Homo sapiens: one gene and its partners. Changing the gene in region 1 together with any one later gene gives a genetic interaction. Each region holds a gene or a part of one and is shown on either strand. Other genes may lie near its edges.

Region 1 (4,119 bases):
TTTGGTAGCACAGGCAGGATTTCATGGAGAAAGGAAACTGCTAGACAGTTGTTCTGGAAAGTAGAATCCATTCCCCCAAGTATGGGAGGGTTCTGTCCCTGAGGAGGGGTCTCAGAAAAGCAGATATGCTGATGGACTGTGGAAGGAAGCTATCTGCATAGGAAGGATGAAGACATTCTTCCTAAACCGAAAGGGATCCAAGTCCACTTTAACTTGCTCAATTACAGCTTAACCAAATTCAGCTGATCTTATAATACAAAGTCACAAATCCCATGACAATCCTGCTGCCTTCATTCTGCAGCCACTTAAGCTAAACACCTCTCAACCACCTCAAAAATCTGTTTACTCTCTGAAAATGGGATCAGGGACTTCCTCTCCTGATTACCTACCCAATATGAAAATACAATATTTATTTTCACAGATCGTATTATTTTTTAAATGGCAAAAATATTACTTCCATTCATATTTTAGAAAATTGAACCAAGATTTGGAATGACATGCTTTTAATGTGGTTCCTACAGCTTTTCTATGTAAAACGCAGGCTGGCACCGTTTCACACAGGGAAGTAGCTCAGAGAGGAGGCATGTCCACAGACCGCGTGGTGACAGGTGACTGGGGGAAGTTCGGACCTCGGGCTTCAAGTCCTGACTCATCACTAACGGGTTCTAGAGCTCTGGGCCCTTCGATCTTCATCTTGAAAATGACAGCCTGAAAGGACTTTTTACGGCCCCCTTCAGCTTTAAGCTGGTCCTGACCTAATCACATGTTTCAAGTTCTAACTGAAAATTACGAGAAGGAAATTAGGAAAGATGTATCAAAGTCCATGTTTATCCTGGATTAACTTTGTCACCATTGTGCTGCTGTGGAGGCAAACCTGTTGCATCACATGGAATACCCTATTTCTGGCTGTGCATTAGAAATACAAGAGGCAGCCGACTGGCTTTTTATATTTTCATTTTTTAAAAAAGTAAACAATAGTATCCCTCGATGATGGGAAGTTCTCAGGTTTCACCTTTATAGTCTGAAAGTACACACAGAATGCCACCTGGCAGACAAGGGCCACACAGCTGAACCCGGGGTATGCTGGCTAGCTTTACCACGCGTGAAGACTCACTTTAAAGCCACGTCCCCAATCCTTACCAGGGGGCTGATCAGTGCCGTCGCTGTTACTGGTGGGGCGATTAACCGTGTAGCGGCCAGAGAATGAGGTTTGCGTATTACCTGCCCATGTATTTATACCCACCTCGTGTGGCTTGTGGTCACCAGAGCAAGAGCATGCAAATTAAAAGCAACGAGATTTGACCTTAGATCTTACTGGACACATCTACTACTATATTGGAAACAGGAAAAGAAAGAGCTTTTGACACAGCACCTGGTGGAAGGGGCAAACCTCCATCTCCCCATACATTGCATTGTTGCAGTCTTCAGAGTTTCAAAGGCTTGCCGTTTCTCCCTGAAAAACACGGCCGGTCGGGAGGGATTTCTGGCGCGGCCCACTCACCTCTTTGATCTTTGCCCTTTTCTCGCGGATGGCGGCGTCGGCGGGCTCCCGGCTCTCCACCCCGATTGGGGGCACGAAGTCCACCGGGGGCAGGCCTCTGAACGGCGCCTTGTCACGCAGCTGGTCCTGGGCCACCTTCTTCTTCTCCAGTAGGATGTCTCTTTGGATCTCCTCGGGCAGCTTCTGCAGGGTCTCCTTGGCTTCCCTGAGAGCCCGCTCGTGGTTTTCGCGGATCCTGGCCAAGTTGTCCTCCAGGGCGGCCTCCGGGTCCCCGGGTGCCCCCTCCTCGCGGCGCCGGGCTCGCCCCTCGGCCGCGTCCTCGGCGCGCGCCCCGGGCCCGGGCTTGTGGTCGGCGGCCGGCTGCAAGGCGGGGCTGGAGTGGAACAGGACCCCGCTGAGCAGCTTGGAGGAGTCTGGCAGGAAGAAGATCGCCCCGAAGCAGAGCGTGATGAAGGCGCTGAATACCAGCAGCAGCACGAACTTCTCCGTCAGGCGGAGGGCGGCGGGGCCCGACCCCTTCCTGCCACCGCCGCCGCCGAGCCCCCCGCCCAGGACGCCGCCCGCGGGGCTGCTGAAGAGCGGCAACAGGCCCCCCACGGGCATCGCTCCCGCTGTCCAGTGGTCCGGCGCCGCGCCGCTCAGCAGCCAAACTTCGCCGCCGCTGGGAGTCCGCGGCTGCGGGGCTGGGTCCTGCGTAGCCAGGCCGCCCGACCCCCTCGGCTGGGCTGCGGATCCTCCCTGGGGGAACAACTCCGCGCCGGGTCTTCTCCCCGGGGCGGCTCCTCGGGCACACAGGCACGCGCGACAGACCGCTGGCTGCAGCCCCTGCGGGGAGAGAAACAGTAAAACGTAGTAATTACGGCGATGATAAAGTTTCCAGCGGGTCTCCGCCCTCCGACTCCTGGCGAGCCTCCAGGACCGCTCCCCTTAAGCAGAGTCCTGTCCAGTCCGGGCACCGCCCTCGCAGCCCACTCTCTGGACTTGGGGTGAAGTTATCAGGTCCCGTGGGTAGGGGAGGGGTGTCCCGCGCAGGAAGGGGTCAGGGCAGCGCGCGAGCACCTCGGGGAGGGGCAGCGCACCTCTGGGCAGGAGGGGCGCAGCGTGGGCGGGAGACTCGTCAACTTCGCCCGCTCCCCATCTCCGCGCTGAGACTGCTGCCTCTTTCCTAGGCTGGGCTGAGCGCGCTGTCCCACGGTCCCGCAGCCCCGGCGCGGCTCAGGTGGGCGAGCGCGCCGACCTGCGGGCGAATGGCAGCGAGTAGAGCAGCACGGTACACTCCGCCGCGGCCCCGCGAGCACTAATCTCACTGCCGGTCTTGGGGCGGTGGAAAGCGAGGGAGGCGACGCGGCCGGAGAGTGACGGCGCGGCCGGGCCAATCACGCGCCGCCCAGGGTCCCGCGGGGGCGGGGCCGAGGCGAGGAGGGGGATGCGCGGGGCGGGGAGTTTACGGGAAGCGCAGCCTCGGCGGGGCCCGGCCGGCGGCGGGGAGGTCGCGGGGCCGGGAGGCGCGAGGTAGGCGGGAGCCGCGGTGAGGAGGACGGTCGAACCCGTGGCTGAGGCCCAGCGCCGAGAAGCGGCAGGCAGAGTTCGGGGTCGGGGAGTTTATCCTGCGCTGGCCTCGGCAGGGGTCCCCGGGGTGGTTGATCCTCGACTGGCCCGGGAGGCGCCTGGGTCCGCGCGGGACCTCTCTGCCTCCTCCTCCGACCCGTGCGGGGCGGTCGGGGGCGCTCCCGAGGGGGTCCCGGGAAAGGCGGGGTCTGGCAGGGGGTCCTGGGCGCTGGGTCGTTCAGAAGCACGGCTTTACTCCAGTTACCCTCTTTTTATCCAAGGCCGGGGTTCCCCGGGTGCCTGGTAGCAGTGAAACCCCAAGTCCCTCGGTTAGGGGAGCCGTGACCCTGGGAGCTTTTGAGCTCTCTGGTATAACATCCTTTTACATCCTAAGAGACACAGTTCTGTGCTTGCTTAGGACTTTTTTCGTATGCGCCCTTTCTTCCCCCAAAAAACAAAAAACCGAAAAAACTTGTATGTCTCTCCCGCCCACCCGTACTTTCACTATTCATTTACCTCATAGAAGTTGGTCAAATTTTCCATTCGAAGACGAGTTTTATGCTGCGGTAGCTTCAAGCAATAAGTCGAACACTGTGTTGAAATTAAGTCTTGGATCCGACTACTTCCAGCGAAGTGAGGAGTTGGTCCAATAGAAATTATTTTCCAAAATGTGTTGTAATTCTCCTGTTGCTCCACAAATAAGGGGTTATCAGAGAGGAAAACGTTGACTGACTTCGCATTTCTGAAAGCTGGTTTGTAGTCGCCTTATTTCATCCTTACCCTTCTCTGGAAATGTGACATTAGTTCTGTTTGTGCTTAAGACAAAGGAAACAGCTGGCACCTTTCGGGAAGGTGGCTCCAGTACAGTTGTTTCCAGGTGTTAAGCTGTATGAGAAAGTAGAAAAGTAATCAGAAATCCTTACTAGTTTTCATTTAATCATTTAATTATTAATTTTAACCATCATTATTTGTCGTCTACTTGTTTTGTGTAAAATGAGTAATACACTCAAAGTTCTTGTTAATAGGAAATTATTGTTTGATAAAGCTGGCTTTATGGCTTGGTTATTTTG
Region 2 (3,718 bases), on another chromosome or scaffold:
ACCAGCAGGTGGCCTGGAGCGCTCAGAGCACGCGCGATCAGGAAGGCCCGAGTCTCCAGTGTGCCCTCCCTGGCCTTGTGAAGTCATCTTAAAGTCTGGCTTGAGCGCCTCTGACTTGGATTCTGGGAAGCTGACACAGCGCGGCCGGGGTCGCCACATCCTGTTGAGTAGCCGCTGGGTGCTAGGCGCCTGGGTGGTAGACCAGGTGTCAGGGATAGGGCCCATGCCTGGCCTACTGGGGAGAGGACAGAGGCTCAGAGGGGTCACCTCGAGCGCCCAGGCCATTGTGTTCTGCTGGCTTCCAAGGCAGCACACGGTCATGGAACTGGAGAGAGAGGTTTATGGAAGATTTTATCTGGTACACTGGGGAATGGTAAGACAGGGACACCTGGAAATATTGTAGGAAAGTCACAGAGGGAGGAAGGACTCAGCGGAGAGAGGAGAAAGCCGCCTCTGGGCAGCTTCGAGGATACCCAGGACTGTGGCCGGGGGCCATGCAGCTCAGAGCCAGGCCCATGGCAGGTCTCTGGGTTTATTGGGTGGCTGTGGAAGGAGACATCCTGAGTGGGGCTCCTGGCTGGGCCCCTAGAGGCCGTGACTACTTGTACCTGTGCAGAGTGAGCACAAGGCACCTGGCAAGATTGTTGGTCAGGCCAGAGAGGGCCGTGATCTGGGGGAGGCTGTTGCAGTGCGGGGAGTGATAGGGAACCTCATGGGGCCGTGCCGGCCTTTCTGGGGCTCTCTTGGTGCATTTGGAGTTATTCCGAGGCAGGTCTCCTGGGCTCTGTCAGCACTCTGGCCTGGATCACTCTGGGGCACCGTGGGCACTGCAGGGTGCTGGGCAGCACCTTTGGCCTCCATTCACTCCGGGTCAGGAGTACCCCCAGTCGTGACAACCACAAATGTTCCCAGACATCACCCAGTGTCCTGCTGGGGGGAGAGCCACTGTCTGGGAGCATCTGTGCTTTTGGCCTGGTTGCCCCTGCGCTGGGGGCCGCTGCTCCTTGTGGTTTATGGCTTGTCCTGTGTCGGCTCCTTTGATTCCTGTGAATGGGCCTTGAGGGTGGATGTGCTCCTGACTGGCTCGCCTTGGCTCCAATGGTCTGGAGCAGGCCGGTGTCTAGAAAGGCAGCAGCATGGACCCTGGCGCTTGCCCTTCACACAGCAGCTCCCCAGTGGCCCAGAGCTAGCAGCAGCGCGCAGCGTGCCCAGCTGTGCTTGTAGCCTTGGCTCTAACCCTTGGCTTTGCCAGAGAGACTGAGGCACAGAGGAGTTGAGGGATGGGCCCGGGGTCACCCCAGGGGGTGGAAGATCCGGAGCTGGGAGTCCACACTCCTCCACTGCCCGCCCCGCACAGAGGGCGCTCCTGGTCAGGCGGCTATGTTCATGGTGCGACCCGTCAATCTGAGGTTGTGCTGTCTTCTGTGAACTGAGGCCTTTTCCCATCCAGGCCTGGTCCCCGTGACACCATGTCATGATGTCAGAATCCCTGAGAGCTGTGACAGGGCTTTTGGCAGAGGCCAGTCATTCGACAGATGCTTATAGGCTGAGCTTCCAGCTTGGCTCCAGGCGTTGCCAAGGAGAACACTGGTCCGCCTGGGAGGGCGGGGCTGGCAGGGAGAGGATGAGGGTGACCACAGTTAGCACCCAGGATGTGGGCATTCAGGGGCTCCTTCAGCACACAGCAGCGCGTTCCAGTTCACGGACCGCTCCTGTGTTCTGTGGACCCCACACCCTGCAGGCGTGGGCTGGAGGGGGGGCATCTGACCCTGCTGGGGAGAGGGAGTCCAGGCTATGGAGGGGCGGGCTGGGCTCACTGGCCTGAGGCAGTGGGTGAAGTGGTCCTGGTTTCCCACCTGGTCTTAGGGGCAGGAAAGTCCCTAGAGGCTCTTCCTGATGCTCTGGAAGAAGAGAAGGGTTCCCCACACATCAGCCGCCACTGGGCCTGGACTTCTGCCTCTTGAGATTGTGCACGGAGCTGAGTGTGACTGGCGGAGCCCAGAGCCAGGTGGGGTCTGTGGGGAGGCAGGCTCCTCCTGGCTTGGTCCCCCGGCCCAGCAGGAAGGGAAAGGTCGCCTGCCAACTGCCCCCATTGAGGCTGCTGGCCCCGAATGGCCGGGCTGGCCGCCGGTTTTTGAAGCCCACTCTGGTGCTGCCAGGAGGTCAGGGCTCTTTGTGGTCAGCCTAGGCCAGAGGAAGCCTCTGCAGATGGACTTTACGCATAAATACCGCACAGGCACCCGAATGGCACGCAGCAAGCGAGGTTGCCATCCAAAACGGCTTTTGCTTTAACAGGCAGAAGAGGGTGGCTGCGCCGGCCACCGTGGATTGAGCACCTGCCAGGTGTCGAGCTGCAGGCCCTGGGTGCCAGGCTTGCAGATCCTGGGAGATGTTCATCATGACCTTTGATGGGCAGACTGCACGCTGGACTCCAGGTTGCAAGGGAAGAAGTGGAGCTCGTCCCACGCCTCCCCCACTAATGAGAACACCCCTTTTGGGTTTGTGGGGTGTGAGGTCTGTAGGAGCCACGACTTCCAGTGTCGGAGATGCCGTCAGCTGGGTGATGACTCTCCCACCCAGCGGGCCCCTCAGAGGCAGGGTGCAGGAGCCACATTGCTCACCGACCCCTTCATCTGCGTAGGCCAGTGTTGCCTTGCCCCGTTAACGTCCTCAGTCCACACGCCGCCAGCCAAGGTGCAGGCTGAGCAAGCCTGGAGCTGAGGACAAGCGGACCGCCAGCCCCGTAGCAAGCCCACGAGAGCCAGCAGCTCCTCCTTTTGGCCTCTGCCCGCGCCCGGCTTCCTGGACTCCGACGTTTACTTGTGTGAGAGTTGGTTCTGCTGCCTGGGCAGTTGATGGACAGTGTCTGGGAGGTGCCTGCCCAGGGCTCCGCATGTTTCTGATGTGCCGGCTTCTCACTCACGACCTGGTGAGGTTGGCAGCCAGGAGCTTTCTTATTTTATTGATTAAAACATCCTGAGATTCAGAAGTAGGGACTTTGTGCCAGGGCCCTGGAGGCAGTCCCTGCCACTGAAGAGATGACCCTGCTTTCCGGGACTTCCCGGAGGCTTCTGTCTGTAGACCAGGGAGAAGGTGTTCGCCGGTGGCTCCTGAGTGGTAGTAAAAGACACATGGACACAGGAAGCTTTAGCGTTAGAAGCTGCTCTCAAATATCTCAACAGAAACACACAGTGTGGCCGCGCGCGGTGCCTCACGCCTGTCATCCTAGCACTTTGGGAGGCCGAGGCGGGCGGGTCACCTGCGGTGGGGAGCTCCAGACACAGCTATGTGAAACGAAAGCTATCTGTTGCTGTCTCAGATTCCATAAGGACTGAGACTTGTTTCAAAAGAAACTGAAATTCTGTCTTGTTCTCAGTAATGAAAGTCTTTTATACCATAATTGTATATATAACTTCTGACTTACAGGAAAATTACAAAAATTCCCATATCCTCTTGGCCCTGCCAGACTCACCATTGGCTGACATTTTACCCTTTGGCACGTGGTGCCTCTTGCCCCACCCCCAGTGAACTGTGTGTGTGTGTGTGTGTGTGTGTGTGTGTGTGTGTGTGTGTTTAGATGGACCCTCACTCTGTCGCCCAGGCTGGAGTGCAGTGGCTTGATCTTGGCTCAGTGCAACCTCCGCCTCCCGGGTTCAAGCAGTACACCTCGAGCTCAGCCTCCCGAGTGGCTAGGATTACAGGTGCGCACCACCGAGCC
Region 3 (3,718 bases), on another chromosome or scaffold:
CCATGCCTGTGGTCTTAGCTACTCAGGAGGCAGAGGCAGTAGGATTGCTTGAGCCTGGGATCTTGAGGCTGCAGTGAACTGTGATCGTGTCACAGCACTTTAGCCTGGGCAACAGAGCAAGACCTTGTCTCAGAAAAAAAAAAAAAAAAAAGAAACGGAGCTAAACATTATGTTCATGTAGGCACTATCATAAAAGATGTCAATTCTTCCCAAATTATCAGATAAATTTTAGGCAATCCCAATCAAAATTCACATCAGGGTTTTTTTTTTTTTTTGGTAAAATTTGCAAGCTGCTTCTAAATTTTTTGTGGAAGATCAAAATGTCAAGGATAACCAAGACCATTTCGACAATGAAATGTGAAATCTTTACCAGATAATACTTACTATAAAGCTGTGGATTGAAAGGGAATATGAAGAAGTGAAAATAATTTATTTATTTATTTTTTAAACAGGATCTCACTGTCCCCCAGGGTGGAGTGCAGTGGCGTGATTTCAGCTCACTGTAACCTCAGCCTCCTGGGTTCAAGCGATTCTCCTGCCTCAGCCTTCCGAGTTGCTGGGATTACAGGCGCCTGTCACCATGCCCAGCTAATTTTTGTATTTTTAGTAGAGACAGGGTTTCACCATGTTGGCCAGGATGGTCTCGAATTCCTGACCTCAGGTGGTCCACCCACCTCGGCCTCCCAGAGTGCTAGGATTACATGCGTGAGCCACCACACGTGGCCTGAAAATAATTTTTAAGGTGGTGAAAGTTTTCTTTCTTTAATCCTTGTTGTTTGTGGCCTTGCTTTTAGAAATTATGAATTATATTTGAAGTTTTTTTTTTTTTTAAATCGAAGAGGAGGGTCAGAAGTACAAAAGACTAGGCTGGGCATGGTGACTCACGCCTGTAATCCCAGCACTTTGGAGGCCGAGGCGGGCTGATTGCTTGAGATTAGGATTTCGAGACCAGTCTGGCCAACGTGGTAAAACCCTGTCTCTACTAAAAATACAAAATTAGCCAGGTATGGTTATGCACGCCTGTAATCCCAGCTACTCAGGAGGCTGAGGCAGGAGTATCTCTTGAACCTGGGAGGCGGAGGTTGCGGTGAGCTGAGATCACGCCATTGCACTCCAACCTGGGTGACAGAGTGAGACTCCATCTCAAAAAAAAAAAGTACGGAAGACTGATGAAGAGGAATTGTTACTGTTACTCAATGATTGTCCAAGAAACAGAAGGAAATACTTCTATTTTCACGTGATTGTCAAATACTCACTGTTACTAGTTTTAAAAAAAAGACTTTGTAACAATTTTTACTTGTCAATTAAAAAAATAAATGAACAAAAAAAAGGACTTGTGGATATGCCAGAGGCTCCCTCTTACTTTGTGTTGAATCTCTCCCCAAGAGGTCCTCACGCTTGTTCTTTATAGAAACTAGAATAGTACGATCGGCCCTCCGTATCCACAGGTTCCGTATCTGCAGATTCAACCAAATACTCTGAAAATATTTAGAAAACCACAACAATAAAAATAACACAGGCTGGGCACCGTAGCTCACGCCTGTAATCCCAGCACTTTGGGAGGCTGAGGTGGACGGATCATCTGAGGTCAGGAGTTCGAGACCAGCGTGGCCAATATGGTGATACCTTGTCTCTACTAAAAATAGAAAAATTAGCCAGATGTAGTGGCTCATTGCCTGTAGTGCCAGTTACTCGGGAGGCTGAGGCAGGAGAATCGCCTGAACCTGGGAGGCGGAGGTTGCGGTGAGCAGAGATTGCACCACTGTACTCCAGACTGGGCAACAGAGCAAGACTCTGTCTCAAGAAAATAAAAAATAAAAATTACAGTTTAACTATTGATATCACATCTACATTTCATGAGGTATTATAAGTAATCTAGAGAAGATTTAAAGTATAAGGGAGGATGTATGTAGGTTTTATGCAAAAATAATGCTATTTTATATAAAGGACTTGAACACCAGGGATTTTGGTATCTTTGAGGGGTCTTGGATCCAGTGCCCTGCAGAAACCAAAGAAAGACTATATCTGGAGGAAGAGTAAGAAGATGGTTGGACAGTGAAGATTTTGGAGTCAGAAAGTCCTGGGTGATATTACTCCAGCCCACATGAAAAAAAAGAAAAAGTCAGTCCTGGGTGGCAATGAACTACAGTTCTCCCATTGCTGCTTCCCAGTTGTGTCATCTTGTGCAACTGTATACAGTACTTAAAATGTCTATTATGGGTTGAATTGTGTCTCCCCATCCCCCAAATATGTTGAATTACTAATCCCCAGTGTCTCAGAATGTGACCTTATTTGGAAATAGGGTCATTGCAGATGTAATTAGTTAAGGTGAGGTTTTACTGGAATAGGATGGGCCCCAAAGCCAATATAACTTGTGATGTGAAGACAGACACACAGAAAGAATCCCATATGATGATGGAGGCAAAGGCTGGAGTTACACTGCAAGCCAAGGAAAGCCAGAGATTGCCAGCCACCACCAGAAGCTAGGAAGAGGGAAGGAGGATTTCTTTATAGCTTTCAGAGGAACGGTGGCCTGCCTTCCTGGCACCTAATTTTCTACTTGGAGCCTCCAGAACTATGGGATGATACATTTTTTTTCTAAGTCACTCTGTTTGTGATACTTTGTTAATGCAGCCCTAGGAAATGAACAGACCATCTAAAACTTGGTTTTCTTCATTATATAATGGGGATCCTGTTACTTAGGCGTGATTGAGAGTAATTACTTCAATGGTATGTGTAAGGTGATAAAAAATATGTTAACCAGTCAGGAAATGAGAACTGCTATTACTGTTATTTTTATCACCATTATAGTGACCGTTTTCCTCCATACTTTCTCTCCATGTGGTATAAATTTGTCATGTTGGAATATATGTTGTTTCCCCCATTATAGGCTGAATATAAAAAAGCTGTAACCACTAATCAGTGGCACCGAAGATTAGAGTTTCCAAGTGGAGAGACAATTGTTATGCACAATCCAAAGGTAATGATGGTGTTCAAAATTTTAAGGTATTAAGTTCATTTTAATATTTTTCTGTGTATGTTTGATAAATTGTTCATTTTTAGTAACTTCTACAGTGGGAATGTTTTTGTAACAAGTGCATTGCTTTTAAAATACTTTATTATTATAGTGGATAATACAGATATTATTTCTATGATTCACACTGATCATAGAAACAAAAACACAAATTTTTCGTAGGGCGAGGTGCACACCTGTGAGAGGCTGAGACAGGTGGAATGCTTGAGCCAGGGGGACAGCAGAACCCTGTCTCTATAAAAAATAGAAAAATTAGCTGGGTGTAGTGGCACATGCCTGTAGTCCCAGCTACTCAAGAGGCTGAGGTGGGAGGATTACTTGAGCCCGAGAGGTTGAGGCTGCAGTGAGTCAGGATTGCTCCCCGCTGCACTCTAGTAGCCTGGGTGACAGAGCAAGACCTCGTCTCAAAATAAAAAGTAAATTTTTCTCAGGCTGGGTGTGGTGGCTCACACCTGTAATCCCAGCGCTTTGGGAAGCCAAAGTGGGAAGATTGCTTTAGGCTAGGAGTTTGAGACCAGCCTGGGAAACAAAGAGACTCTGTCTCTACAAAAATTAAAAAAATTAGCTGAGCATAGTGGTGTGCACCTGTCTAGCTACTCGGGAGGCTGAGATAGAGGATCACTTGAGCCCAAGAGTTTGAGATTGTAGTGAGCTGTGATCACGCTCACTCCAGCCTGGGTGACA

Evidence for each region.
Region 2: changes in MAN1A1 (region 1) and DAZAP1 together harm fitness less than expected from each alone (positive genetic interaction), as found in Homo sapiens cells (one large-scale study listed by BioGRID).
Region 3: changes in MAN1A1 (region 1) and SEC23IP together harm fitness more than expected from each alone (negative genetic interaction), as found in Homo sapiens cells (one large-scale study listed by BioGRID).

What each region holds. Positions count from the first base shown.
Region 1 is NC_000006.12:119,346,962-119,351,080, forward strand, and holds the start of MAN1A1 (mannosyl-oligosaccharide 1,2-alpha-mannosidase IA), read right to left. Parts: upstream 2,801-4,119; 5' UTR 2,581-2,800; intron 2,327-2,580; coding exon of another isoform or gene 2,105-2,326; coding exon 1,502-2,104; intron 1,496-1,501; exon of another isoform or gene 1,409-1,495; coding exon of another isoform or gene 1,373-1,408; intron 1-1,372. UniProt on the Homo sapiens protein: Involved in the maturation of Asn-linked oligosaccharides. Progressively trim alpha-1,2-linked mannose residues from Man(9)GlcNAc(2) to produce Man(5)GlcNAc(2).
Region 2 is NC_000019.10:1,410,460-1,414,177, forward strand, and holds part of DAZAP1 (DAZ-associated protein 1), read left to right. Parts: intron 1-3,718. UniProt on the Homo sapiens protein: RNA-binding protein, which may be required during spermatogenesis.
Region 3 is NC_000010.11:119,906,151-119,909,868, forward strand, and holds part of SEC23IP (SEC23-interacting protein), read left to right. Parts: intron 1-2,890; coding exon 2,891-2,980; intron 2,981-3,718. UniProt on the Homo sapiens protein: Plays a role in the organization of endoplasmic reticulum exit sites. Specifically binds to phosphatidylinositol 3-phosphate (PI(3)P), phosphatidylinositol 4-phosphate (PI(4)P) and phosphatidylinositol 5-phosphate (PI(5)P).